Linked DNA regions of Homo sapiens: region 1 is linked to region 2. The links come from fine-mapping of genetic effects on gene expression. A gene starts in region 2. The other region holds a variant in brackets. All regions are shown on one strand. Distances are from middle to middle.

Region 1 (14,980 bases), 34 kb after region 2:
GCATTTCTCCCAGGGGTCTCTTTCACTGTGTCCACAATGCAATCCTGGAAAATGTACAAAATTGACTGTGTACATTGACACACAGATGGTCACCCAGCGTGTCTTCTCCTCCAATGAGGAAACGTGTATTACAGCTGCTATAAAGATACACCCTCTATAGGAAAGTGGCCCCAAACGTCCCAGTCTGCAGTCCACAGCGCCATACCTGCCTCACGTGCCTGTCCCCCGGGCAGCTTGGGCAGTGCCAGCCTTGCCTCTGCGCTGTTCACAGAGCCTGCTTTCTGTCGCTGGCGTTGGCACTCACGTCTTTCTGTTTTCACTCTTAGAAATAAAGTAAGGTCAGAGCACAGGAAAGCAGCTCACCACCCACCCACCACTGTATCGAGACGGCGGGGCTGCGGGAGTCGGCCCACCAGGTGGGAGGGCAGTGCACGGTGGGTGACAGACGCTCACGCGGGGCCTGGCATCAGCACACTGTGGAGGCAACGGTGCAGGGTGGCCTCACTCTGCCTGCCCAGCGTCCCTCCTCCTTTCATTATCAGGTCCCTGGTTTCAATCCGGGGAGCCTGGGTAGTTCTAGGGGATGGCTTTCTCCCACCCCAAGTGGTCAAGTGACCCAAGCCTGGCCAGCGAGTGCCCATCTTGGGACCTTTGCTGGGTTTCTTGAAATGAATCTCTCTCGTGCTTGCTCTTTTGGTGTCTTTTTCCCTCTGTCTCTCTCTTTCTCTTTGTCTCTTTCCCTCCTCTCTGTCTCTTTCTCTCACTCTGTCTCTTTCTGTCTGTGCGTCTCTCACTCTCTGTCTCTTTCTCTCTGTCTCTCTCTGCATCTTTCTCTCCCCCTCCACCTCTCTCTCTCTCTCTCCCTCTCTCCTCCCTCTCTGTCCCACCGATTAGATATATAAGCCTGAAATCTCAGTGTCCATTTTGCTCCGCCTGCAGACAGCCTGCCAGGAGTGAAGCTAGCCCCAAGGAAAGTGGAGCTGAGCTATGGAGAAAGATTTCTGATGACATGGTTTGGGTTCTGGATCCAGCCCTATTTTCAGACCTCTTGGCCACATAAGCAAGTTGATTCATCTTCTGAGTTGAGTTTCTATCCCCAGCCAACCCAGCATGGCAGGAGTGACAGCAACCAGCCCCATGTGGCTCCTGCAGCCCTGCCTCTGCCCTCTGCACCCTGTGGAGGCTGAGACTCTCGAATGCCCATCAGCAGGCCAATGGTGTCGTCATAGAATGGAGCCCTTCTCAGCAAAGAAAAGGAACAAAACCTATGGAAACACACAACAGCGCAGAAGAGTCTTAAAATGATGTTGAAAGAGGCCAGGCACACAGCCCACACACTGCATGATTCCATTTAGAAAGTTCCAGCTGAAACAGATCTGATCCATGCTGGCTAGTCCATGATTGCTGGGACAGAGGAAGGGGATGACTGCCAAGGTATATGAGGGAAGTTTTTGAACTGATGGAATCTTCCAGATCTTGGTTGTGATGGTGGTTGCATGAGTGTAAAACTCAACATTTGTTAAAACTCTACAAACTTCACACTTAAAATCTGTGCATTTTTTTTGTATGTAAATTATATGACAACCAAGCTGACCCTGAGAGAGCACGCAGGACGTGGGGTCCACCCGATGAGACACACCTGGCCAGAGACAGGACGATCTGAGCTGCAAAGATGATAATAATTGCAGTGGACTGAGACCTACCAAACACGTTTCGGTTCATGAATCCATAATGATACATATTTCTTTTAAATTCAAAGGCAGTCACCATTTATTAACTTACCAGATTACAAAAATAATGATGTAGACCTGAGTTCATTCTGCTAGAAAGCCTGCTGGTCTGGTCTTCCTGGCTGCCAGCACCCCTACCTTCTACAAAACGAGTGGGCTTTTTCTTCATTTCACCTGGTGGAGAAGAGAACTTCAGCCCACAGGAGGTAGTCTGCTTCTTTGAAGTGTTTTCCAGCAGCGTAGATCTCATGCATCAGACCCTCCACGCAGACGATGCCGTATTGACCAGGAACTCCAGCAGTGGAAGAGCGCTCTCCAAGGTGGCCCGCTTCCTGTTGGTGTTGCCGGAGCCGTGCCTGGAGACCTGCTCCTCTACCGACTTCGTGTTCAGGCCCCCGACACAGTGCGGTGTCTGCTTCCACGTCCTGAAGGCACGTTCACTGAAGCCTTGCTGAGATGGACAGATGTGCCCCTGAAGACACAGTAAAGGTGAACAAGCTGCAAGCCCACACCGGGGACCCCCTGCTGCCAATGGCCAGGCCAGTCTGGGCTCCCAGGTGCGTACGACGAAGTGCCTCTGTCCCAGTGCCACAGTGACTCGGATCCCAGCTCTGGGCTCTGTATTCCTTGCGGTGGTGCAAAGCTTTCTCATAACTCAGCTTCCCCCTTGGCTTTCAAAGCATCTTTTTAAAAACTCCTGTCTCAGGCACCTGATCTTTAGTTCTGTGAAATCCTTCACTGCTCCATAAGGGGCTTCTGGTGCAGCAGGAACCTTCTCTTCCCTTCGATGCCGTCCACAGTTCCTGCTGGAAAGGGGCCTGCGCGCACAGTGGTATCGAGCAAGCCAATCCTCAGGAGGGCTTCGGGGACCTGGTGCATTTTCCTGAAAAGCGGCGGCTGCAGGAGAAGATTTGTGCCTTTATCCTGCTTCCTCTGGACAGTGGCACTGGGGATGAGACTGCGTGGAGGAGAAGAGTTTCCATAAAGGTATCCCGACAAATAAGTGAAAAAGAACTTCCAGACTCAGGACATCACCGTCTTGCAACCTTGATGGATTAGTGGCTTGAGGCACAGAGCAAGCCTGGCCACCATTCCAGGAGTGCACAGCCCTGACCTGTGTCCTCCTGATGGGGGGACAAAACAGAACCTGGGTTCCTGCTGCAGGGATGCAGCCTGAGTGGGAGGAGTCTCCGGGTCCAGCCACCAGCACACAGGAAGCTCAGAGGACAGAGGAACAGGCAGAACTGCACCAAGAGGGCGCCACCAGCAATCCTGATGCATGACACACCCCAGGCCAAACGACCTGGTCCTTCAGCAGACACATTATAAAAAAAAAAAGAGAGAGCAACAGGAGGGACCTACAGACTGAAACAGACTTGAAACATTTTTAAAATCAAGCTGTTATAAAAAGTTAGGCAAAGCTGGCAGGCTGTCGTGGCTCCCTGCCTCCCCACAGGCCCCACTTTCCCACAGGCCCTGCCTCCCCACAGACCCCGCCTTCCCACAGGCCCCACTTTCCCACAGGCCCCACCTTCTCACAGGCCCCGCCTCCCCACAGACCCCACCTTCCCACAGACCCCGCCTTCCCACAGACCCCGCCTTCCCACAGGCCCCGCCTTCTCACAGGCCCCACCTCCCCACAGGCCCCACCTCCCCACAGGTCCCATCCCACTTCCTGTCTACAGGAACTTCCACAGGGTCTCATTGAGGTGCCAGGGCAGAGGGGTGGTGAGGGGCCATAGCTTTGGGGAGGGGAACACAGAGGGAGAGGGAAGGGAAGGGGGAAGCACAGGGTTCACCTGGGAAAGCCCAAACAACCCCCCATGTGACTGCCTCATTCTGAGCTTCTCAGGGAAGCTCCCTCAGCCACCTCCCACCCATCCCCCTCCCCCACCTCAGGGACCCAACCTCCTCCCTCACTCAGCCTCCCCTGTCTGCCTTAGCTCACACCCAGCCCCTTCTCCAAACTGCCTGCGTCTGCTGCCGGAACCCTCTGTTGGCCCCTAATCCTACTGATGGGTGGTCTCACCTGCTGCGAGGCATTAGGCGTCTGTGTGATTGTGTGGTGGGGGGATGGGAGCGTGTGTGCATGTGAGTGTGTGCACATGTGTGCCTATGTGTGTGTGTTGTGCATGTGTGGGTGTGTGCATATATATGTTTGTGCACATGTGTGTGCCTGTGTGCATGCATGTGTACTCATGTATACATACATGAGTACCTGCATTGCTTTGTGTATCTGTGAGAAGCTGTGCATACATGTGCGTTTATGTGTGTGTGGAGGGGTGTGCCTGCATGTCCGTGTGTGGGAATGTGCAGGTAAGTGCATGTGTAAGCATGTGTCTGGGTGTGCACGTGTGTGCCTGTGTGTGCATCGTGCATGTGTGCATTGTGTGTGCCTGTGTGAGAATGTGCATGTGCCTCTGTGTGTGTGTTTGCACGTGTGTGTGTTTGCACATGTGTGGGTGTGTGCACATGTGAGCCTGTGCCAGTGTATGGGGTGTGTATGTGCTTGTGTGTGTTTCCCCAGCTGTAAGTGCTTGGCATTGGACTGAGCCAGAGGCGCACTGACGAGGAGAAGCACATGCCAATGCTGCTGGTGCTCGGTGGCATGACCGCTGTCATTCTGAAGTTTTTGTCTGACAGTGGAGGGATCTCCCCCAGAACACACTGGGGAGCTGGGGAGGATAAACAAGGTCTGAAACTGGGAATGAGCAGCTCATCTTTATTAAGGGTGGGCCTAGATACCCGTTCAGGGGCCATTGGTGGCATAGGTGCCAGGTGGAGTCCCTTCAGCAGTGGCTCCAGCCATAGCAGAGGAGGCGTTCCCAGCTGCACGGACTGGCATCGCCTCCAGCCCTGGTCAGCACAGATGTGCTGAACTTCCCCGTCAGCTGTTGCCCTTCACACACTGGAGCACTGTGGGGCTGGGGCTGAGAGAATGCCTCAGCATTGACAAAGAGAAGAATTTCTTTCAAATGAGCATTTTCCTTTTCTTTGTGAGTAATGGACATTTCAGGGCTGACCTACAGGAAAAAAAAAAACCCAGGGCAGGAGCCAGGACCAGAATTCTGTCCTAGAGCACCAGCCTCGCCCCCAGCACGCTGGGACAAGTGGACACAAAGTGAGGAAGCAGGAGACGGAGTGGCCGGGGTGGGAGCAGGGTCTCTTCTAAGGGCTCAAGATCCAGGACTGAAACACACAAACCCAGGTGGTCGGCCCAGGGGTCCTGGGGAGGGCGTGTGGGTGTTCCCACTGGAGGCAGCAGAGCAGGGATCTGGAATCCTTGGTCCAACCCAGGTCATTGCTCCTTGTCTTCAAGAGTTTCCAAAGCTTCCAGATCACGGGTTGTTCCTGAAACTTGGGAGGCCGCATTGGCCATTCTGCCTGGGACCCCGCCTCCTGTTCAGGCCCTCGGAGGCTTGTCCACACCCTGCCCCCGTTCTCTGGCTTCCTCCACAAATACACCTGGAGGAAGTCCCAGGCCACGGACACGGGAGCAAGGGGCTGGGAGAGACAACCTCGACAAGCGACCCCACAGCCTAGCGCTTGGTGGCCCGTGTGCCCTGCTGCAGACCAGAGGCCGCCCGGTCAGCAGGACCTGAGGAGGGACAGGGTGCTGGGGTGGGAGATGGACAGCGCCTGAGCGAGCTGCTGAGGAGAGGGAAGTAGGGCCCTGCAGAGGGACGGGAGCCACGGCAGGGGCGGCAGGTGTGGTGGGTGCAGGAGGTGCGGTGGGCGCAGCAGGTGCGGTGGGCGCAGCAGGCGTGGTGGGTGACCCACGGGAGGCTGCTCAGGCCTTTGCCTCCATCCCATGCTCAGGAGGAAGGAAGTCAGGATGTTTTTGGTGATGCCATGGAACCACAGGCATGTCAGAGCCAGCAGAGTTTGGACAACGTTGTGCCCAGGGCTTGGCACAGGAGCATTTGTGGACAGCAGTGAGGTTGCTCGCATTGGTCATGGATGGCGTGTTGGCACTGCATTGACCCCAGGACCTCGGGCAGGAAGGTGGACAGAGCCACTGATGATACAGGAGGGGGCCCAGGCACTGCTCTGCAGAAAGGGCTGTTTATCAGCCCTGTGGCCGCTGCCTTAGTGTGTGTGGTGGGAGGTGGGATGGGGATGAACTGAGCTACGTATGGAAAAAAAGTCTGGAAGGAAGTGCCTGGCATCTCACCAGGGGCTGCTTGGGGTCGCAGAATTTAACCTTCTTTCTGCTTGTTTGTGGTCAACACCACTTTCTCCCAGAACAAGGAGACGCACACACACACAC[T/ACT]ACGTTACTTCATCCCTTGACATCTGGGAAACTGCACACACCTCCCACCCTCCACCCAAGGCTGCGGGGAGAGGGGAGATTCCACAGTGACCCACTGCAGCCAACAGGGTCCCGAGTGTGATGGCGGCTGCTAGAGTATAGAGGAGAGAGACGTACTGCTGAGAGGCCGGGGGGCTTTCCAGAGGAGATGGCCCGCTGAGGGGTAGGGAGGAGAGGGAGGGGACCTGAGCAAGGTGTACGCAGGGCAGGTGCGGGGCCAGCAGGCATCAAGAGGACCAGGTTGATGTGGCTTGTTCATAAGACTCACCAAACACACTCGGTAAAAATTCAGGTTCCCAGGCCCTTGCTCTGGAGGCTCTGACTGGGGTAGGGGTGGGTACGGGGCCTGGAATCTGCATTTCTAATGAGCTCTTGGACTTGTCTTACAGTGATACAGGACCCAGGATCTGCAGATCCTCAGCCGAGGTTGGGATGGGCCAACTCCTGTCACCTTTGCACCTGGTGGGGAGAGGCTTTCCCACAGCACCGGACACTTAGACCCATCCTCTCGGTCACTGAGCTGGCAATGTCCACTGCTCACTCAGGTCCACATTCTCACCCCTCCCAGGGAGATGAAAAGACAGATGGCAGAGCGCCAGGAAACATAAAGCCCGTTCCCCAGCATGGGCCCCCCTTCTGCTGCCCCCTCTCCCCTTGAGCCCCTAAGGCAAGATGCTCCAGGGACCCCCCACGCAGCTAAACACACAGCAAAGCATGGAGACCAGGCGCGGGCACTGAAGGCAGGAGCCCCCAAACTCAGGGTCCCAAACTCAGCCCAGCCAAGTCCAGCCAAGTCCAGCCAAGGGCCGCTCATTCCTGAGGGGAAGACGCAGCCCTGGGGCAGACAGCCCTGTGTTCCCATTCTGCTCTGGGCTCGCCCAGGGCTGGCTGTGTGACTGTGGTGAGCTCCTCACCCTCTCTGATGCCCAGGCACTCCGCAGCATGCCCAGCCTGGCAGAGCTGGCTCCCGTGCACCCCAACCCGAGGTTGCTGGGATCCTGGGATCCGAAACTGCGGTCCTCCAGTGGGCTGTGTCCCATCCCTGACCCCACTTCCTTGACCCTGGGGAGTAGCCTTGGCTTGGCTGGGCCCTGTTCCCAGTGGGCACCTGCTCCAGAGATGGGCATCTGCTGGGGGCAAGTTCAGCCCAAAGCCAAGAGGCTGCGGGGGGGAGCAGGGGATGTGGCATGAGACAGCCCCACCCCAAACCTGGAGGCTCCAGGCTCTGTCCTGCCCCAGCTGCCTCCTCCTGGTTTTTCTCTCCTGCTGGGCAGGCTGGGGCTGTTCATAGCGGTCCCACCACTGTGAACACTAGGGCTGCCCTGGGGCCTCCACCTGCACACTGACCAAACATGCAGCAAGGAGCTGGGAGGAGCAGTGCCGCCCTCGGTGACCCTGTGTCCCCGGCCCTGTGTGCCCAGCACCTGTTGCTCATGTATCCTCTTAATCTAGCCTGGAGGTGGCAGCTGCAACCAGGGCCAAATCCCCCCTGCCACCTGCTTTCAGACAGCCCCGAGAGCTCAGGACAGCGTTCACCTTTTTAACGACTAGGAGGAAAAAATCAAAAGACCCATTTTGTGACCCATGAAAATGATACGTATTCAAATTCCCGCGTCCGCCAATAAAGTTTCACTGGGACACCCGGCCGCGGTCATGCATTGCCTGGGGCTGCTTAGGGTCAGCGCCCGTGTGGCCCCTCGTGCTTGGCCCGCCAGGCATGGGGGCTGCTTCCAAGTGTTCCCTCATCTCCATCCACATGCCCTGTCTGTCCACACTGTGCGTGGCCTTGTGCCGGGCTGCACTGTGATTTCAGTGGACGAGGCCCCGTCCTGGGGATGGCAAGGCGGGTGCAGTGGTTTTTACTGGGGACCCCATGAAGATGCCCCGGGTGGGTAGGCCAGGAAACAGCCACAGTGTCCTACAGTCATCTGGAGCTGATGTCCTGACCATGGTGGAGCACCGGAGATGGTCTTAGCCTCATCTCATCCTTTAATTTACAGGAGAGACGGGAGGCCGGGAGCAGGAGGCCCTGGCTCTCGGCTGGCTGGGACGGAGCCTTCATTCCCCTCCGTTCCTGCCACCCTCCTCGGTACCCCGAGGCCCTGCCTGGCAGGGCAGCTCCCACACAGCTGTGGGCTTTCTGCAGCTGCATCACTGCCCTCAGCAGGTGTCAGTGCCAGAGGGTCGGGCTGGCGGGGCCGTGGGTGGCGAGGAAGGGCCAGGCGGGCAACACGGAGCAGGCGTCCCTGTTCACGGCCGGCGTGGTGACCAACAGGAACCCCAGGCTGCACTGGAAGGGACTCCAGTGGCTCCAGCCTTCCCTGGCGGGTGCTGGGTCAACAACAGACACTGTTCTTGGCATGATGTTTGCACAAATCCCTCCCACAGGCCCGGGAGTGGTTCCCTGAGTCCTCACCCGGGTGATGTATTTGACAGAGGACCTCAAGCTGTTGCACCCCAGCCACCTCACCGCCCTCCAGGTAGGAGGGAAGGTTGAGGGCAGGCCGACCAGGTCCTCGGCTGCGTGGATGTCCAAAGTCTCCCCTCCAGGACAGGACCAGGCCTCACCCAATGGACAGATGTCCCTGGCAGGAGACCCCGGCACCACACAGCTTGGGGTTGGTGGGGTTGGGGTCAGGCCACCCTGAAAGGCACGGCCACACCCAGGCCATCCGGCTGCCCCCTGTAAAGGGCTCAGCAGTGGAAGCCCCCGGAGGCTCCCAGGAGGCGGCGCCTGGCCAGGACCCCCAGCAGGGGCTGACCACTCTGCCCTCCACTCAGAGAGGCTTGAATAAAGGCTGAGGCCATGCAGCCCTTCGGGAGCAGAGCCCATGGATCCCGCACACTCTGGTCTTCAAACTCCAGCCCCAGCCCTGTGCTGAAGACTGGGCTGCCGTCCACTACCCCAGCCTCTCGGCCACTCCCACTATCTGGGGACATAGCGACTCTGTGTGAAGAGGGGTGGTAACACGGTGCCAAGGTTAGGGTTAAGCTGACCCTAGGAATTAGAGGCACTAAAGCTGGGCAGGGTGTGAGGAGGGAGCCGTGGCTTCCTGAGCCAGGGCCACTGTCTTCAGACCTGGTCTTCTATCCGTCCATCAGTCCAGGGGGTGTCTGCCCTTCTGCCTACCATGCCCCTTCCCTCTGCTCATCCCTCCCAGGGTCCTGACCCTCGCCTCACCTGCCCTGGGGCCGGCAGCTGGTGGCCCCTGAGGGGAGGCCCCACGTCTGCAACTCTGGGCAGAAGTCAGGGGTCACTCCTGACAGGCCCTGGAACCCCAGGCCTAGAGATGCCCAGCAGGAGCCCCCGTGCCTGCCCAGGCCTCCAATCTGCTGGCGCCCAGCAGCCTGAGCCCCTTCATGCCAGCCCCTGCCAAGGGAAGGGCACATGGTCGGGGACCCCCACAATGGGTCCTGGGTGCCACCTGGCCTGCAGACCCCCTTGCAGATCTCTGCTCACTGCAGCTGTGCCCGTTGATGGCCCAGCTTCCCTGCACATGGGCGTCACTGCCTCCCGCAAGAGGGTGGGGAGATGGGGAGCCCCTGGGGGCCCCAGCAACCTTCACAGGCACCTCCCCAGCCACGGGCCATGCTGAGGGGCTCCTGTTTGGTAGTCTCCCTGCCAGGCCCAGCACCCCTCAGGCCATCTGGAGAGATGCCACCGGCCCAGGCCTCCCCACTGAGGACACAGACCCCCACAGGTCACCAGCGCAGCATCCGTGCTCACCCCTGTGGGTCCCTGGAGGTGCCTTAGAGTCCAGGCCATTTTAAAGGAGAAATCGAAGAAGGGTCCTTGGGAAGAGGACAGGGCGGGGCCAGCCCAGGCCCCCGGCAGGCCCAACCCACAGGGCCCAGCTCCTAAGCCCACATTTTCAAGCAAAGCTCTTGTGTGAGCAATGAACATTGGTTTCATGGTGCCCTGGCAAGGAGGAACAAGCAGGAGCACCCAGCTGTGGGGATGACCCCGTTCCTCAGCCACCCACTTTCAGGGGGAAGGGTCTCGGGCTCTGCACTGAAGTGTTCCGGGGGCGGGGGCGGCACTCAGGGCTTCACTTACTTGGAGCTGACCACGTGCCGAGCCGGGCTCTCCCCGCGCCACCTGCTGGGTCCTCTCCACGGCTGCGGGACCTGCGGCCGGGCCGCACGGCGCCATCAATGCACAGCTACAGCTGGTTGAAGGGGACCAAATCCATTGGACAGTCGATTTGGTTCCATTTTACCAGCTCTAGCAAAGCATTTGGCTCCCAGATCCGAGGAACAGCGACGTCGGTGAAGAAGGCGGCTCCACCAAGCAGTCCCGATGGAGATGGGGCTTCGCGGCCAGCATCAGGCCCTTACCCCAACTCCCGGAGGGCCCCCACCCCGTGGAGTTTCCCTCAAGCTCTGCAGGGACTGGTGTGAAGGGCCACACGCCCCAACACACACACACACTCAGACATACACAGACACACACACCCGCTCACACGCAACTCACCACCCTCTCGCTCTGCCCGGGCTCCCCCATCGGGGACCCGCAGGGGTCTGGGGAGGGTCGGGGGTGCCAGGCGGCCTCCATGCTCTGGAACTGACACTCACTGCTCTCTGCCTGTCACCGCCCGATTCCTCCACAGCCCTCGCTTCACCAAGTGCCCACTGCCCCCAGCACTAGCCTCAGCTGTGGGATACAGCTCAGACCATCGGGCCCCGCCCCAGGGGGCTCACATCTGTGGGCACAGTGATCTTGCAGGTTTGAGGCCCTTATTCCCCTGCAAACTCCTCCCAGACCATGCTCATAGCTGGAGCAGAGGCAGGACAGACCTCCCAGTGAGCCTTGGGCCCTGGCTAACCATGGGGCAGCCCACCCAGGACCCCGTCCTGCCTGGCTTGCCATGGCCTGGGTGGGACGGGATGGACTCTGACACCACATGGTATCTCTGGGTAGGCAGGACGGGAAGATTCCAGGGACGTCCACATTGCATGGTGGTGGGAGGACAGCCTGAGGGGGCCTTCGTGGCCTGACCCTGGGCCCCATGCCCCAGACCTGCAGCCCTGCCCGCATCTTGCTGAGGGGCATTTCCATGCCCAAGGGAACTGTGAGGATGGAGTGTCAGGACGGAGGTCCGAACGTGACATCACTCTTGCCTGGCTCCCGCGTCCCCCACACCAATGTCACCTTCAGTGCCTTGAGAGCAAGTTCCCTTTTATAAAATGAGTCTCCCTGCAGCCCCCGTTCATCAGGAGCCGTGACAGGTGAGGGAGAGTGTCTCCGGCAGTGCTGGGGATGTGGCACCCATGTGTGTGAGCTTCTATCCGGGAGCACAGGCCGTCCTGGGCAGCACAGGTGAACGCACCTGCTCCTCGCCCACCAGGTTGGCAGAGTGGGCGCTGCGCACTAGGGCCTGTGCCACCTGCCTGCCCGTTGCACACCTGGGGCTGCCCTGCCTGCCTGTCCTCTGGCCTTTCTGTCCCCCTCCTGACATTGCAGGGACAGAAGCTCAGGCCCCTCAGGCAAAAGGGACGGTCGCACAGCACCATGCCCACGCTCCAAGTCCCCTCTGGGAGTGACTGAGCTGGACGACCCCCCACCCCAGCCTCTGCCAGGCCTGCTCTGACCCGTCCGTAGCTGCCTTCCCTGACTGTCCCTGCCACGGTGCCCTCCAGAAAGATCTGTGCCGTGTAGGAGGACCACCTCCTCAAAGTCCCCTATAAGTCGGGGCTGGGCCCCAGCCTTCTCAGCCTCGCGCCCCAAAACAGAGAGGCTTCCGGGCCATCAGCCCACACTCTGCAAACCTCTCTCCTCCTTACTCCAGTAGCACAGAGGGTGCAGGGCAGACCTCAAGGCTCCCAGAGTCCACCCCTCCCTGGCCCTGGAGTGAGGACGGCTCAAAGACCTCGAAGCCGGCACACACTTGTCCATTTATCGCCTGTCAATATTCCTAATGGAGCAGAAGATTTGACAAGATCAAGCCGGGGATTCGAGTCCCAGCCGCGATTCTATCCCATCAGGAGCTGGGAGGTCTGGCATTTGCCAATCAACATAGCAAACAAACTGGTCATTTCACCCGAAAGGCAGCAGAGCACTGGGGCAGGCTGCAAAACCCCCACGGGGAGGCCACTGCGGCCTTGGATGAGGCATCAAGCTTGGCGTTGCAGCCGCCACGGTGGTGGGCGTGAGCTGTGAATAGACACCGAGCGGCCAAGTGCCAGGTGCGGCCCTGAGCACCGACAGCCACCGTCTTCTCCCATACACCCCACTGTACCTCAAGGCCAGTCCTGTGCTGCCCCTCAGGAGGACACTGGGGCTCACAGCAGCGTCCCCTGCCCCGGGGCCCAGGCCCTTCTCTCTTCATGCTGCCCCATGAGGTGGCAGCCAGCCTCCAGGTACCCTCACCCCAATGTGGCCTGGCTTAGGGAGGTTCCCAGTCATTCTTTGCCAAGGGTGTGATCAACACCTTTTCTTGCAAATGTGAAGGAACAGGCCCACAATTCGTGTTCTTGGGACGTGCCGGAACTAGGTCCATCCTTCGGGCAGGACGTCGGGGACCCCTGTGGACCCGGGCACCCCCCTGTTCTGCTCTGCTCCCTCAGGCAGCAGCTCCCACTCACTGGCAGATCCTCTAGCCCCTTCCCCTCTGAACCCTGGGGTCTCACCAGCATGGGGCGAGGGCTGACAAGGGAGGTCCCTGAGGCTCCTCAACTTCCTTGTAAGTATTTTTTTCTTTTCTCTCTAAAAAGGCCAAGAAACCAACACCCCACAAGCCCCAAAACCTCCCCAAGGGCCCCATGGCTCAAAGGTCAGGTGCTTCACAGAGCTCACCCTTCCTAGACCCCCGCACCCCACGCTCTCCGGCCTTGGAGCTTGCCTTCCCCAAACTGAGCTGTGCTGCCTCCCGCCTCCCAGGCATGGGCTGCCTTCCTGCCAAGACCCATCCCCTCACCACAGCGACCGCCCCTAGCTCCTGGGGCCTCAGATCCCCGGGCCCCGAGGGCTCCAGCAGCCTCCGGGTAGGGGAGGGCCAGCCCTGCCTGGCCTTCTCTGGGGCCAGCTGCCACTGTGGTTTCCTCATCGAGTGAGGAGTCCCTGCGCCCCCCGAGTAAAGGCAAGCTCGCCAAGGGAGGGGCAGCTCCTGGCTGGTCCCCTCTGTGTCCCCGGCTGGGTGCCCAGACCTGGCAGAGAGGTGGCCCAGGCGTTTCTGGTGACTTTACCGTTCACCAGGACAGCAGAACTGGGGTTGGAGCCTGGGATGTGGATTCTCCGGAAAACCCACTCTGGGTCCTCCTGCCCCTCTCTTGACTCCAGTGCTACAGAGAACAAGGCTGCAGCTCCTACCGCTAGTGCACTTTATGAACCAAACAATTAAACAGGTTTTAAAACATCTGCTGATGGAGTTGTCCCACACAGGGAAGTACACTCAGCATTTTTAAGCAGCGACGGATACTAGTTGCAGGCAATCTCTGCCGAAAGCACCGGCAGCCCTGTTAAAATCAATACAAAATTAGATGCCATGAAGATACAGTACGTGTCCAATTAGTTATAATTGGAGCAAATAGTGGTGTAGATAAAGACCTGGTAGGAAGTGTCACTGAGACTCACGGCTGCAGCAGCCTCACCCACGGACCCCCGAGGGGTGAGGACACAGGGGAGCAGGAGGGCCAGAGCCACGCCTGCCATCTTATCCCGGAAGCCCCTCCTACCTTTGGTAGGGCCCCAGCCCCTGCGCTGGACCCTAGAGGGGAGGCAGCCCCACAGCCCTGGAAGGCGGAAGTAGGAGCAAGTGTGAAACGCACCGCCGGGCCCTCCCCTGCAGCCGCAGCCGTCCCCAGGTCGACATCTGGTGGGGCAGAGGGGGACCCCGGGCACAGAGTGCCACACACCTAGCCAGGGGTTCTTGGGGACTTCTGCAGCCCCTCTGCGCCTCAGGTCCTCCATGTGGGAGTGTGAATGACCATGTGTAAGCACCAGCCCCGTGTGGCCTGAATCTTGGTCATGCCATGGCCGGGTCTGAGCTTGGCCCGGGGTCCCTGGGCACTTGCCCCTCAAGGGCGGTGGAAGCCAACAGTCCCTCCTGCTGCACCCAAAAGCCCTCACCCAGGACCTCGGGGAACGGTGGCCATTTTGGGCAGAAACCACACAGGACCCCCAGGGGAAGGTGTCTCTTGCCCCAGCACAGGGGACACTACAACCAGCGTCCTTGGTGAAGATGCGGCACCAAACGACTTCCCCTCAAGGACAACCAACACCAGGTCACACCCGCAGCAAAGACACTGCCCTCAGAGACTGCAGAGCACAGCCCTGCCCCTGCCAAAGCCCCCACAGAGACTCAGGGACCCAAGATGAAGGCAAGGGTGGCCCCTCTCCTTCTCCCCCACAATCTCAGGCACTCACCGGGGGGCAGGACAGGGGCCCCTCCCCTCCTCCCCCCTCAACCCCAGTTGCACTCACAGTGGGGCAGGACAGGGGCCCCTCCCCTCCCACCAGGGGAGGACATTGCTAACTCCCATCTGGATGCTTTTTTTGTTTCTTGCTATGAAGCTTTTAAAATTTAAATGTCAATAACCTAATATTTCTCCATGCAGCACCATTACCTATTAGCACTCAGATTCACCACTGAATTAAATTTTAATTCCAGATTTTGGTTAATTATTAAAATAGATAGCAAAGAATTACAGTGAGCCTGGTGTGTGTGGGCAGCCCCCGTTGGGGTTTCTGCAGGAGCCTTTGGGGTTCTGGCTCTCACAGGGCAGTCTGCAGAGAGACCCCTAATTAAAAGGCAAGAGGAAACCCTGCACCCCAAAACGGCTTGTTTCTTATCATCAGCAACGCTGACTCAGCCAAATGCTGAACAAGACCCGCTCAGCCCAAATCCATAACTTTTCTATCTATTCAAAAAAAGAAATGTATTATTTCTCAACACTGATAAAAGTTTAATACAGAGTTGCCCGGGTTTTTAATAAACTTGTC
Region 2 (14,980 bases):
TCAAAGCCAGGGCTGGGGGTGTCCCTGATGTCACACACATCCTCCCCCATGTCACTCCCACACAGCAGCTGCCAGGAGCCTCTGACTTTTAAAAAGCTCATCTTCATCATGGCTGCGGGGTCTTACATGGGGATTCTGAGCCCTTGCTGCCCGCGCAAAAACACCAGCGTCCACTCAGCCAGCAGGCCAGTTAAACCCAGGGCTGGGCGGGGCATTTTCCACTCTGGGACTTCATCATTGCCATCAACTGCTCTTGGCTCTCTAATAAAACCATGGAACCCAGGCACGGTGGCCACGTGCCTGTCAAACCTGCTTCCTCATCTCCTTCCAGGGTTCTGACCAAAATGTGAACAAGTAAATTAAATTAAAGTGCAGTTCGTTTCTGAAAAAACATTATTTTCCTCAATGAATGTTCAAATTGTGTTTTATTTTCCTCTTTTTAAAATACTTTTTTTAAAGAATTGTTTTAGGCCGGGCATGGTGGCTCATGCCTGTAATCCTAGCACTTTGGGAGGCTGAGGTGGGCGGATCACTTGAGGTCAGGAGTTTGAGACCACCTGACCAACATGGTGAAACCCCGTCTCTACTAAAAATACAAAAATTAGCCGGGTACTACTCAGGAGGCTGAGGCAAGAGAATCGCTTGAACCCGGGAGGCAGAGGTTGCAGTGAGCCGAGATCACACCACTGCACTCCAGCCTGGGTGACAGAGCGAGACTCTGTCTCAAAAAAAAAAAAAAAAGAAAAGAAAAAGAGAAAAAAAAGCCAGGTGCAGTGGCTCACGCCTGTAATCTCAGCACTTTGGGAGTCTGAGGCGGGTGGATCACCTGAGGTCAGGAGTTTGAGACCACACTGGCCAACATGGTGAAACCCCATCTCTACTAAAAATACAAAAATTAGCTGGGCGTGGTGGTGAGCGCCTGTAATCCCAGCTACTCGGGAGGCTGAGGCAGGAGAATCACTTGAACCCGGGAGGCGGAGGTTGCAGTGAGCTGAGATCGTGCCATTGCACTCCAGCCTGGGCTACAAGAGTGAAACTCCATCTCAAAATAAATAAATAAATAAATAAATTGTTTTAAATTTACGAGACAGTTGCAAAGATAGTTCAGAGAGCGCCACACACCCACGCCCAGCCCCCCGGGGTGCTAAGGTCTCACGTCACAGGCGACATTGGTCACGGCCAGAGTGCCAGCATTGTCCACGGCAAGGAGCCGGATGCTGCACTTCCCTGACGCCCTCCTGTCCCAGGGCCCCGTCCAGGACCCCAGGAAACATTTGCTCCTCACTCCGTGGGCTCCTCTAGGCTGTGGGTTTCTCAGACTCGCCTTGTTTTTCATGACCTTGGCGGTTTTGAGGACTGGTCAGGACCCTGGTGGAATGGCCCTGGGTCTTCCCAGTGTTGTGCCTTTTCAGCTGCCTGGTGGGAGCCTCCTGAGGGTCCCCTGCATGGCCATGCTGCCCCCCATGGAACCCGAACACCGGCAGGTCTCCAGGGCATGGTAGCTGGCCAAGGACTTAAGATTAGAAAGGTGTTGCCATGGCCTGATTTCTCCGAAGGGTCCCATCTAGTTTGCCTTGTCCTTGCAGGCTGGCCTCTCCCAGTGCCAGGACAGCAGCAGCAGGACAGCAAGCAGCAGGACTGGAAAGAACCGAGCCTACTCCTCACTTCCAGGCATGGACTCGCCCGCCTCACCGGGTCACGGGCCCGACCCCCGACCATTCACTGCAGCTGGGCAGCCTCATCCGGAACACAGAGGGATGGAACAGGGCAGGGCTGGGTCCCCAAGGCAGGACTGGGGCCACCACCTCAACAAGGGGTCCCTCCGCAGTGTCCCAACAGACACCATCTCCCTGCTGGCCTGAGGATTCTGGAACTCGGCTGGGAATGGCCCCAAGAGGAGGAGGTGTTCTTGAAACATCTTTTCGAGGTTTATGAGACATTCTATTAGCCCAGCCTCAGACAACTGTTCGTGGGAGATGCAGCATGTGCACCCCTGCGATAATTTTCTAGGCAAGAGGCAATAAAAAGAAGTGGACTCTAACACGAAGGCACTGCCGCCTTGGTTTGAAGGTTTAAGGCAGGCCCTATATTTGGGGGCCAAGAGACAGTGAGCACATAAGCATTTAATCGGCAACATGGGCAAGGATCATTTCAGAGCGTGCTATATAGACAAGACCCACTTTAATCTATTGGAAACTTGTTTCAGGAGGTGACAGTTTGCTCGTTCCCTTAAACGCTATTTAAAGAGGAAACCAAATTATCTAAAATCGGTGTGGACAGTGGTGGACACACAGCTGACCCTCTCTGTCCTCAGTTTGCAAATACATAGGATTCTGGCTGGGGCGCAGCTCGAGACTAGCCCACGATGGCGACGTGGCAAAGAGGTTTCCAGGTGCAGCCTTCACGGGGCGTGGGTCACATATGAGGGGGCCAGACTCTGGGTCAGCCATTCGTGCACAGGTGCTTTGATCTTCGCAGCTGGTGCAGATATTATCGCCCCGCCCCCGCCCCGTCTCCCAGTTTGGGATTCCAGATTCCCCAGGGAGCGAGAGCTGGCAGCCCGCCTCTGCAGCAGCCCCGTGGGCAGGGCCAGGTGGGGACAGTGTGTGCGCTGCAGGTGCAGAGTCCCCAGGGAGGCCCCGTGGTGTAGCAAGGAAGCTGCTGCATGTGGCTGTGTGGGGGCACTGGCTCTGTGGAAATGGGCACTGCCTGGCCTGGAGCCCAGCACCCCCTGCACCCCTCTAGCCACAGAGGCAGCCGTGCTGGGGCCCTGCCAGCAGCTGAGTAAAACTGCTAATGAAATAGCACCGTTAAAAATGGGCCTGCCGTCCACGCCAGAGTGCTTCGCTGGCCCCCAGCCCAGTGCTCCCTAGCACGGGGTCAGGGTGTGGGTCCCCAGGGAGCAGCTACAGCTGAACACTGCCCCCGCCTCGCCTGGAATGTGGTCCATTCGGCCTCGCGGCCGTTTGCTGTTTGCCTCGCGGCCGTTTGCTGTTTGCCTCGCGGCCGTTTGCTGTTTTCATGCTCTTTCTCCATCCAGGGGGTTTCTTGATGCCAGGAATTTCACCAGCTTTGGCCCCTTCCTCTCCTCCCTTCCTGCCTTCCTCTCCCTTCCTCCCACCTCCAGCAGCGTCTTTTTCTCCTTTCAGAATTTCAGATGGTGTCTTCCATTTGCATTAAAACCAAACAGTTTAATCATCATATTTAAATAAAGGCGTTGCCTGGAACTGCTCTCTTCCTTAATAATGAACCTTGGCATGAGGAAGGAGCCTCTATTTGTATTTTTAAAATTGCTTTTACAAGGTGTGGGGAGGGCCCTTCTGGAAGGAGAACTTTCTTTGCTATTTCTGAATGAGGAAGAGTTTGCATTTCTCTGGGTTGCCCGGCCCAGTTGTTCGTGTTGTCTTGGAGTAACACGGGGAACAGCTGTTCATGATAAATGTGTTGCTCACATGGCCTCAGTGGTCCCCACCAGTGGCTTCTGGGTATTTAGCATGGCCTGGAGGCCTTGAGTTACGAGGGCTCCCCTGTGGGCTCTGCTTTGTGCACCACTGAGCTTCAGGAAGCCGCTGTGAGGTGTCAAGCCATGCCCCCTGCTCCCCCCAGCTCAGCACGTCCTGAGCCCCTGAAAACTCTCACCTTCTCCAGACAGACAGGACTTGCTGGCTGCTTTAGATACTAGTACAATATTGTGGATGGTCGGGGGGGTCCCCAGGAATGGCCAAGGGAAGGGGGTGTCCTTTAAACCCCTGAAGCTGGGTAAGGAGGCCTTTTAAAAAATAGGGCTGTTTACAGGGGGCAGGGCCAGCTGAGGCCTTGGACCTCCAGAGACACTTCCTCCCCCAACTTCCTCCACCCCCAGCCCCATGCCACCCATCAGGCCTGCTCTGGCCAAGGCCCTGCCTTTCACCCAGCTCCCTCTCCATCAGCCAGAGAAAGGATGCTAGAGAAAAGTGCACCTTCCCTAGAGAGGCTACAGGAAGATTCCCGGTCCCGGTCAGGTGGGCAAGTCTGGTGGGCAGTGCCAGCGGATGCAGGGCTGAGCTGCGCCTGGCAAGGGCCAGCCAAGTTCACGGAGGGTTGAGCTCAGCAGGCGCACCACAGGCCTGCCTGCTAGAAGAGGTCATTGCGGTGGTTTCTGTGGGTCCCCAAGGCTACAGGGGTGTGGGTGAGGCAGGAGGGTTGGGGGAAGGGGCAGGCTCTGACCTGGGGCACCGGCTGGGAGGGTATAGCAGTAGGTCGGCTCTGCTAGGAGTGTGTGCACTTTCTACACCTTCAGGTTCTGAGCAGCGAGTCCTGAGCCAAATCTTGTCTCTCAGGAAAACCTTGGAGGTGTCTGTGTGTGCATGGAGGTGGGGTGCACCTGCTCCCACAGGTGTATGCTCCCGGGGGGTCAGGGTTGGTGGAGCATCCAACCCTTGCTGAATGCAGACCTGGGACACTGAATGGGGCAGGAAGCCCCCGGCTGACCGGACTGCAGCAGAACTCGGGGCTGTTCTGGGGCTTGCCTCCCTCCCCTGCAGCAGACAGGGCTCCAAAGCTATGGGGCAGGTCCTGGCAGGTGATGGGGCAGGTCCCGGCAGGTGATGGGGCAGGTCCCGGCAGGTGATGGGGCAGGTCCCGGCAGGTGGCATGCACGGGTGGGCTGTGCATGACTCGGGGCCTTGCTGGGTGGCCACACGAGTGACTGGAGGCATTTTCAAAAGATGCCCCATGGGTCTCCCAGCCCCAGGCTCTTCTCTAGCATGACCAAGGCTGCTCCCATGGAGGGGTCTCTGTCCCCTCTTCTGGAATCTGAGGGCCTCGTGACTGTCGGAAAGGATGCCAGGTGGCTCCGCGTCTCGGCTTCCACCTCTCTCTCAAGTGCTGGCCTCGGGAAGCCCACCCATGTCACATGTGGGGCTGCCGGAGAGGCCCAGCCCGAGATCCCGGCTGCAGGTCCCACTGATGGCGGCATCGTCTGTAGGAGACTCCCTCTGGAGTCTCCAGGCTCTGGCCCCAAGGCTTCCCCGAGGAGGCTGCAGACCTTGGGGAGGAGGCCTGGGCCATCCCAAGTGGCCTGTCGGAGTCTCTGACTCACAGGCGCTGTGAGCAGCAAGCATGGTCGTCCCGCAGCCTAGGCCTGGGCGCCTATTGTGCATCCCAGAAGCTGGAACGCGTGCTGGGCACAGACAGCTCCTCAGAGCAGAGTGGCCAAGCTGTGGCACGTCTGGGGGCCGATCCCCGTAGGGCTGAGTCTGCCAGGGGCACCAGCCACAATCCTGAGTACTGATTATGCACTGGCTGAACAAGCTGTCCCCAGCGGCTCTGCTGTGGTTCTTTGGTTGAAGCAAACGCTGGCGCTGGGTCTCACCTGCCTCCACACTTGCCCTGGCTCCTGGAGGCTCCAAGGGATGGGGCATCTCGTGAACAGGTGGGGCCTGGGTCTGGCCAACTGTGTTTGCCTCTGGCGGTGGCCAGGTCCAGCACCAGCACTTTGCTCACTCTGGTCCCCAGAGGGCTGGGCAGGTGCTGCGGCAGGAGGTGCCCCTGACCGCGTGGCCTGCTGGAAAGGAGCCTCCCAGCTCAGCGGCAGCCGGAGACAGTGTCCAGAGTGCCCGCAGTGCCACCCGAGCTCAGAGCCTCTCCCAGCGCCAGCACGATCAGAGGATGCTTTAACCGAAGCCATTAAGCTGTCACGGCCCATCCGCCTCCCGCCCCTTCCTGTCAGTTACTGCAGGCGGGGGGGACGCGGGGGGCAGCAGCAGCGGGGTGGGGGGAGCCCCTCCGCTTCCCTGAGTCACCGCCATCCGGCCAGACTGCCCACCACCGGCTCTGAGCTCATCGGCTCTGCGGTCAATCACTTCCCTCTGGAGCTGGGCAAGGCACTGGGGAAACGTGGGCCTGAGCAGGACTTTGCAGCCAAGGCCACTGGACTAGCTTGAGAGTCCTGGGCAGCATCCAGGCACGGGCTCCAGGCCTTCTGCCCCAGCTCGAGGTGCCATAGCAGGTGCCTCTCATGGGATTGGGGCAAGTGGCACAGTCTTGAGGCTCCCCCAGTCAGACCCTTCCCCCTTCTCCCCAGGCCATGGTGGGCAGGTGGCCACTTCCGTTGCTGCCTGTGTCTGAGGACATTGGCCCAGGGTTGGCAAGAAGAGGAAGGTGTTGCATCAACATGCAGCACATTCACCTGACAAGGAGCTGGCCGCAGCCTCCGCTGCCAAACGGTGACGGTGCTGGCTGGTGCCCCCAGGAGCTGTTCACCACCTCCCGGGCTAATGGCGCTTGCTGCCTGGCACACAGCAGGTGACTACACTGCATGGCTTATAAATGTGGCCTCTGCCAGGAAATCCTGGGAAAGAGCCAGGGAGGTGACGTTTTATCCACGAGCCTGCTATGGCTTAGCCTAGCCCTCCCCTAACTGTGACCAAGCTCTGGATGAGACACAGACAACTACTGAGGACCTGCAAAGTAAGGAGACTGCAGGGCGGAGGCGGAACTTGGAGGAGTGACCTGCCGTGGAGTTTCTGGTTTCCTCCTTGTGGCTTTGTCTGGAGGGCAAGCCCCACTCTCAGATCCACATGGCAACACAAGCAGCTAAAACGCAGATAGAAACCCCAACCTGGGAAAAGGAGTCCTACAGGTAAGAAAGGGGTGGAACCCCAGAATGGGGAGAGCCGGGGAAGAAGAGAGGGGTGGAACCCTGGAAGGGGGAGAGCCGGGGAAGAGAGGGGGCAGAACCCCAGAAGGGGGAGAGTGGGGGAAGAGAGGGGGCAGAACCCTGGAAGGAGGAGAGCAGGGGAAAAGAGGGGGCGGAACCCTAGAAGGGGGAGAGCCAGGGAAGAGAGGGGGCGGAACCCCGGAAGGGGGAGGGCTGGACACGGCAATTGCCTAATTCTGTGCATGAATCCGCATAAGTCTCACAGTGCCACCCAGCAGTGCCAACCCAGCAAAGGTCTTGAGAACCACACTGAGAGAGGTGGGGTTTGGGATGAACCTGGCTGCTAAAGTGGAAACAGCAACGTTCCCCGAGGGCTAGGACAGCACCCAGAGTCCACACGGTGTGCTCAGACGTAAAACAAAATTACTCAATAGACACAAAACTAGGAAGGTGTGATCATCCTCAAGAGAACAGACAATGCTCAGATGCCAGCCCCAACTGACACAGATGCCTACAGCAGCCGCGGTAACTGCTTTGCGAGTTGCACGCATACACAGCACACGCACACACACCTCAGAAAGGAGCATTAGATGAAATGAATAATAAACCTCACAGAGAGGTAGGAAAAAAAATAAACAAATGAGTATTTTTGAACTAAAAGAATAGAGTATCTGCAATTAAAATTGTACTGATGGACTCAATAGCAGAATGGAGACAAAGGAAAGCCAGCGAACGTGAAGACAGATAAATAGAAAATATCCACTCCGAAGAACGAAGATAAAGAGGAAAAACAAGAACAAGCATCACGGGCCAGCTGGGGTCGTATCGAAAGGCCCAGCACATACCTGGTTCCAGAAAGCAAGGAGGAGGTTGGGGCAGAAAGTTATTTGAAGGAATATTGGCTGAAACATCCCAAGTCTGGTGAAATACATAAATGTAAGCATTCAAGAAGCTCAGTGAACCCCAAAGAAGATAAACAGAAAGGAAAATAGACCCAGACATAGCATCATCAAATTGCTGAAAACTGAAGAAAACATCTGGAAAGCAGCTAGAGAAAAACAACACATTTCGTACACAAAAGCAGTGACTCCAGTGACTACAGAATTCTTGCCAGAAACCACGGCAGCCAGGAGACAGCAGAACGATGTCTTTAATGCATGAAAGGAAAGGTTTCTCCTTGCAAGGTGTTTGTTCATTTCTTCCAAGTTGTGGAATATATGGGCAGAAGATTGGACACCATCCCCCTCGACTCTTTTTTCCCATCTGTAGGGTCTGCGGTGATGTCCTTTTTAGCCTCCATGTTTGTAATGAGGGTCTCTTTGTTTTGGGGTCAGTCTGGCCAGCAGCTTATCAATTGTATTGATCTTTTCAAAGAATCAGCTTGGGTTTCATTTATTTTCTCTATTTTCTGTTTTTGTTTTTTGTTCAGCTGATTTCCACCCTGATCTTTATTACCTTCTACTTTCCGCATGCGTTTTGTAATTTATTTTTCCCTTACTAGTTTCTCCAGGTGAAAGCTCCTATCATAGTTGGCAAGGGTTTTCTGTAAAGGGCTAGAGAGTAAATATGTTTGGTTTTGTGAGCCACGTGGTGTCTGTTGCAACCACTCAACTGCTGTTGTAGCGTGAAAGCAGCAACAGAAAACACATAAAATACCAAGTTGTTCTCCAGCATAACTTTATTTTCAACAGCAAGAAGGGGCCAGACATGGCCGGTGGGCTGTAGCTTGCTGGCTCTTGGCTTAGAGTGATTTGTGATCTCTTCCTTTTTTATCGTTTCAGCAATTACTGCTGTAAAATCTATCCTAAACACCAGTCAATCTGCATCCCACAAATGTTGATATGTTGTTTTAATTTCCATTGAATTCAAAATAGTGTCTAATTACCTCTGCATTAACCCTGTGCTTCTGCGCTTTGACATCTGGGGTGACCCAGGAGGGGCTCCCCCTCCAAGGGCTTCCCAGCAAGATCACCCTTCATAAGCAAATCAAGGATTCCAGAGCCCACACCCCAACCGCTCCCCAACTGGGCCACACTCTGGGCCAACGTCCCCCTGCCCTAATCACCCCAGGGCCAGGAGCTACACCCAGACCAGCTGGCATTAATGCAACCAGCCAGTTCTCCACCTGTCCACCCCCTGGCCTGGTCCTTCCCACACCACGTTCCTCGCACCCTCTGCCTCCTGGCCTACCTGGTGCTTGCCCTGTGCCCCTTCACCGTGGTGATGCGGCCAGCTCTGTCCTCTTGGGACCCGTGACAAATCATCTTTTTGATGGTGGTTGTCTCCTGACCTGTGGGCCTCACCCTACCTGAATAACAATGAAAGTTACATTTTAAAAATACCAGGTCACCTCCTCTGTTGATATGTTGTTTTAATTAACAACTTCTAAACAACTCATGAGTTCTTTTGGTTTTTTTGAGATGGAGTCTTGCTCTGTCAGCCTGGCTGGAGTGCAGTGGCACAATCTCGGCTCACTGCAACCTCTGCCTCCTGGGTTCAAATGATTCTTGTGCCTCAGCCTCCCGAGTAGCTGGGATTACAGGTGTGGGCCACCATGACCAGCTAATTTTTGTATTTTTAGTAGAGACGGGATTTCACCATGTTGGTCAGGCTGGTCTCAAACTCCTAACCTCAAGTGATCTGCCTGCCTCAGCCTCCCAAAGTGCTGGGATTACAGGCGTGAGCCACGACGCCGGTCGCTCACGAGTTATTTAGAATTGAGTTGCTTAATGTTTCAGGATGTTCTGTATTGGGTTCTCCTTTCATTCTAATTCTGGGATAGTCAAGGAACACAAGTCTCAACAAATCTTGAGATTATTCTTACTTTGTTCTCTGCACGACTTGAGTCTTTTAAGATCTACTGAGACTTGTGCTGGGACCCAGCGCGGTCGGCCTTGGTCACTGCTCTGCGTGCCCTGGAGAAGCATGCACCGCTGCTGGGGTGCAGTGTCTGGCACGTGCCATGGTCCAGCTGGCCCCCGATGTTCTGTGGGGGCATTGCTCCCCAGCGTGTCCGGACAGGTTCTTGCTGAGCACCGGAACCCTGAACATCCAGGGAATGAGGCGTCAGACACAGTGGGGGAGCTCCAGCCAGCGAGCGCCTGCTCCCGCTCCGGGAAGCGCTCCTGGTCCATGGCATCACCGTCCTCAGGCGCAGTCAGGCCTGGGGATGTTTCCTGCCACCGGAAGTGCCCTGAAGGTGTCCTGGTGGCCGCCGTGTGAAGGGATGATGTGACTGTGCACCACAGTCCCCATTTCAGGAGCACGATTCACCCCGGGACGCGGTCCTGAGACCGTCCCACTCTTTAGGGGCTGTGGGGGATGGAGGAGGGGCTCATGAGAGTCACCCAGACCCACAGTTCACCCTGCATTTTCCCAGTGGTCCTGGGCAGGCCACACTCTCGGCCTCCAAGAACTCGCACCCCTCCCATGACAGAGGAGCCTGGGATCAGGGAGAGGGGATCGTGTGCTCGGGGGCACCAGCCCCATGAGAGGACCTGTGTGGGAGGTGTGTGGTCCTGGCACAGGGCCTGGAACTGCCAGGGCAAGGGAGGGGAAGGACACCCAGCACTACTCTGATGTGCAAACCCTAGAGCTGCCTCGTGGCCACCCCGGGAGGAGAAGGAGGGAGTGTGCAGGGCTGGAAGGGCTGACAGCGCTTTAGACACCGTAACTCCACATTTGTGTTTTTCATGCTTGGAGCTTCTGTAGGAAGATGGAGGTTGGCCAAAGTTTCAGTGACTAAAAGTGTGAAATTCATTTAAGTCCATCAAACTCAAACTTGTGCAGGCACCAGGCAGTCACCCTTGATGAAGGCAGCTGGCCAGGCATAAGGGACACAATCCGCAGAGCCAACGAGACCAGAAATGATGCTGGACCACAGAGCGCGTGGACAGTGAGGAGCGGTGAGGCCTGTGCAGAGGGCAGTAGCCAAGCCCAACACAGCTGAGTGCAGCCACGCACAGCCCAGCCACGCCACACCACGCCCAGTCACATCCAGCCCAACACAGCTGAGTGCAGCCATGCCCAGTCCAGCCACGCCACACCACACCCAGCCACACCCAGCCCAACATAGCCATGACCAACCACACCCAACCCAGCCCAGCCTAGCCACGCCCAGCCCAGCTCAGCCGTGTCCAGCCCAGCCACGCCCAACCCAACACAGCCACGCCCAGCCCTTGGAAGCCACACCCCACTCCCCACACCACACCTGAATACAGGCCTAGTGTTACCAGAACTTCTAATTTTCCAACAGAAATGTGCAATTGGGGTCATTATGTTCAGTTTCCCAGTTTTGAATATAGTTTCAACTATCTTGACCAGCTCTACTGAGGATTATTTGACACAATCAACTGCACATGTAAAAGTGATGATTTGGAAAGCTTCGACCTATGTGCACACCCACGAAACCCTTCCCATGGTCCACGGTGAACCTCGTCACCCACAGCATGTCCTCCTGCCTGTGTCCTCCCACCCCTGTCCCCAGGAACCACCGATGTCACTACAGACAACTGCATTTTGCAGAATTCCATATGAACGAAGTCACATGTATACACGCCTTCTTTCACGCAGCATAATTATTTTCACGTTTGATTTTGTCATGTGTTTCAAAATTCCACTCCTTTTTATTTCTGCGTTGTATGGATGCACCATGATTTGTTCATCCAATCACTTGTTGGTAGACATTTTGGTTTTTCCCCCAGGTTTTTGCTATCACAAATAAAACTGCTATGGACAGTCATGCATAAGTCCTTGTGTGAACGCGTTTTCATCCCTCTGGGAAGAATTCCTAGGAGTGGAACGGCTGAGTCTCTGGTAGGGGTGTGTCTAGCTTAAGAACCTGCAGGACAGTTTTACAGAGTGGCCGAACCATCTTCCATCCCCCCCAGCAGTGTACGGCAAACTTTCAACAGCACTGCACAGCCCTAAGACGCACATGCCTGTGGGTGCTGCCCAGCCGTGGCTGCCAGCTTGTCTCTGGTCCAGATCACTTCTTGTTCAACAGATGGGGAGGCCTAGGGAGACCACAGGCCATGCCAAAGGTCATGCAGCAGCTGTCAGCTGAGCAAGGCTGGCAGTGGCCCAGGCTGGTCATGCCCCCTCCATGCTGGCAACTGTCTCCACCAAGGCACACTCTGGTGGAAGCTGGAGGCAGGGGACACTACTCTAAGTGGAGTCATCTGAGAGATGCACCGACCACACCTCTTCTGTGTTTCTATCCCCGAGCTCCCAGGGGCCAGGACCACCTGCCCAGGGAGTGCTCATTGTGCCAAGAAGAACATGACCCAGCACAGGGTCACTGCAGGTCCCTAAGCAGAAGGGCTGGCCCGGGCAGGACCCCAAAGGCTCGGTAGCAAGGTGCTCCTCCCGAAAGCTGTGATTCCCGGAGTGATCCGGGCTCCGGGGTGGGACCTCCTGGTGCAGGGTCCTGAGCTTCGCCTATGCCAGGCTTTGGAAGCATCCTCTGAGGGCCCCTTCGGAAGGAGCATTGGGATGAATTAAACAGCAAGGCAGGGCTCGCCTAGTGCATGCTCTGCTGACAAATGCGGTCATTTTTCTCGATTCTGGGAAAGAAGGGATACGGACTTGTTTCGTCTTGCCATGTCTAGAACTCCTCTCGGAGTCTCCAGTTAGTAGGGAGAAGGGAGTGCCGTGGTCTCTGGGTCCTGCTGGCACGTGGAACCCAGTTCTGCAGGGTCTCACACCTGTCCTCTTCTTGTCACCCTCTCTGTCTTTCTCAGCAACTTTTCAGAAGCTTCAGAAGAAGGACGCCGGAGAATGCCCGCCCGGGACTCCGAGGTGCCCTGTGCTCATGGATTGGTCCTCCTGGCTCCATGAGTGTGAGTGAGTGTCTGCAGGTCCCTGGCACAAAAGCTGCAGTGCTGAGCAGGTGGCTAATGGCCCTGGCTGGGTGATTTTGGACAAGTCACCTTTGCCTCTCTGGCCTCCATTGTCCCTCTGTCAAACAGGCCCCACGACAGCAAGCGTTGGTTATTGTGTCTATGGTCAACATCCCACCTGCCTTTCTGGGCAGAGACGTTTGGGAGCAGTGGCTGTATCCCTGAGCACGTCGTAAGGGCACTTTCCTGCATGCCCTGGCTGGAGGGACCTGTTGCTGGGAAAACTCCCCAGAGTGTGAACCGGCGGCGGCTCCACCATCTGGGTGCCGTGGGCATGGTGCATGGCGGGAAGGAGGCCGGCACCACAGAAGGGTGGCAGCTGTCCCCGGAAGGCTCTCCCCTGAGGGCGCCCAGGGCTCCACCGCTAGCCAGCCATCTCCTTGCAGTAAGGCACGTTTCCTCCAGATCCTCTCGGAACTGCCGGGAGTGGCTGCCCCACCCGCCCAGCTCTCCCTGGGTCCTGCCAGGCAGGGAAGCGTGAACCGAGACGGGCTCGGGATGGCTCTCAGGCCCTCCCTGCTCTCAGCACCAAGGGAGGCACCCAGAGACTGATCTGTGGGGGCAACGGAGACTCCGGGTCCCCCCACCAGGATACGTCCCCTTTCTTTGCATCTGATGCTGACACACACATACGAGGAGCCCAGAGGCAGAAACGGGACTCAGAGCCTGACGCTGAGGCTGGTGTGTGGGGCTGCCTCTCCCAGTGCTGAGGCTGGCGTGTGGGGGCTTCCTCTCCCGACACTGAGGCTGGCGTGTGGGGCTGCTTCTCCCGACGCTGAGGCTGGCGTGTGGGGCTTCCTCTCCCGACGCTGAGGCTGGCGTGTGGGGCTTCCTCTCCCGACGCTGAGGCTGGTGTGTGGGGCGGCCTCTCCTGGTGCTGAGGCTGGCATGTGGGGCGGTCTCTCCCGACCTTGAGGCTGGCATGTGGGGCTTCCTCTCCCGACGCTGAGGCTGGCGTGTGGGGCTTCCTCTCCCAACCTTGAGGCTGGCATGTGGGGCTTCCTCTCCCGACGCTGAGGCTGGCATGTGGGGCGCCCTCTCCCGACCTTGAGGCTGGCATGTGGGGCTTCCTCTCCTGACCTTGAGGCTGGCATGTGGGGCTTCCTCTCCCGACGCTGAGGCTGGCGTGTGGGGCGGCCTCTCGGGAGCAGGCGGCCTCGGGGATCCTGGGGGTCAGCAGCCCCTCCACAGCTGCACCTCCCGGGACTGACCCTGCAGAACCCACCTCCCGCCAGCCCCTCCACAGCAGGACAGCACCCGCCTCCTTTTCCAAGGCCGCCTCGCCCAGTGGAGGCTGCAGCTCTACTGGGTGTGAGTCAGGAGGAAACGCTCGCAGCCAACACAGGCAGGACACGCCCACGTGACATCGGATCCCACGGGGAGGAGTCCACTGGGCAAATCTGAACAATGTGGGGGAAGATATTGATGAGATGTTAAACATAACCCATAGAAGAAGAATCTACAAGTCCGTACTGACGTAAATAAATAAACAGGCATTGGGGAGAGACAGCTTTTCCTTACCATAGAATTCCAACTCAGCCGCAGAATCCTGGTGGGAACCGTCATCAAAGTCAACGGGAGCAGACACCACCAAACCCCAGATCAAAGTCAGCATCGCCAGCAACGGGCACACGGACACCAGGAAACTCCATCAGCATTGCTTTTGCTGTATTCTTGACAAAATTGTACAGTTTAATTTTTTTTCTTTTTTCTTTCCTTTTTTTTTTTAGAGATGGGGTCTCACTGTGTTGCCCAGGCTAGAGTACAGTGGTGTGATCACAGCTCACTACAGCCTTCCGTGGCTGGGACTACAGGCACACACCACCACATCTGGCTTGTTTTTTTGTTGTTGTTCTTGTTTTACTGTTTACTTTGTAGAGATGGGGTGTAGCTATATTACCCAGTCTTGACTTCTGGCCTCAAGTGATCCTCCCACCTTGGCCTCCCAAAGTGTTGGGATTACAGATGTGAGCCACTGTGCCCAGCTGTATAAGTGGAATTTAATTATGAGGAAATCTACAGTGAATCCAAATTAAGGGATAGTCCACAAAATAACTGACAATATTCTTTAGAAGTGTCAATGTCATGAAAAAACAAAGACTGAGGATTCGTCCCAGATTGAGAGACTAAGGGGCCACGAGGACTAAACACAACATGGGACCCTGGACTAGGAAAGGGTGGTGAGTGGGACGGTCAGCAGGGGTGAGCGGGACGGTCAGCAGGGGTGAGTGGGATGGTCAGCAGGGCGTGCATGAGGGGTTTGCTGGGTGATCCTGTTGTATCAGTGGCCATTCTCTGATCATTGTACAATTGATCACTATCCTCAAAGCTAACTTTTTTTTTTTTTGAGACGGAGTTTCACTCTGCCACCCAGGCTGGAGTGCAGTGGCGCCATCTCAGCTCACTGCAGCCTCCGCCTCTTAGGTTCAAGTGATTCTCC

Which allele goes with the higher level. Positions count from the first base shown, and alleles are read on the strand shown. Sizes are in standard deviations (SD) of each study's normalised expression.
For the expression in left ventricle of the gene that starts at base 6,159 in region 2, allele T in region 1 goes with a lower level than allele ACT (small effect, 0.36 SD a copy in GTEx).

Evidence for each region.
Region 1: its variant is fine-mapped to the expression of LINC02970 in left ventricle (GTEx, PIP above 0.99).

The regions. Positions count from the first base shown.
Region 1 is chr20:62,560,217-62,575,196 of GRCh38, reverse strand. It overlaps MIR1-1HG (MIR1-1 host gene), which reads right to left. Exons shown (of 4, transcript NR_171007.1): 3 at 10,097-10,208; 4 at 4,433-4,753. It overlaps MIR133A2 (microRNA 133a-2), which reads right to left and starts at 10,285; the gene lies at 10,184-10,285. It also overlaps the pseudogene RPL7P3. RefSeq lists enhancers at 2,960-3,089, 5,392-5,893, 12,521-13,038, 13,039-13,557, 13,558-14,075 and a silencer at 3,280-3,369. The variant T/ACT (reference allele first, on the strand shown) is at 6,001.
Region 2 is chr20:62,594,620-62,609,599 of GRCh38, reverse strand. It overlaps LINC02970 (long intergenic non-protein coding RNA 2970), which reads left to right and starts at 6,159. Exons shown (of 2, transcript NR_184037.1): 1 at 6,159-6,622; 2 at 12,382-14,980. RefSeq lists enhancers at 3,578-4,367, 4,368-5,158, 5,159-5,948 and a silencer at 5,691-5,840.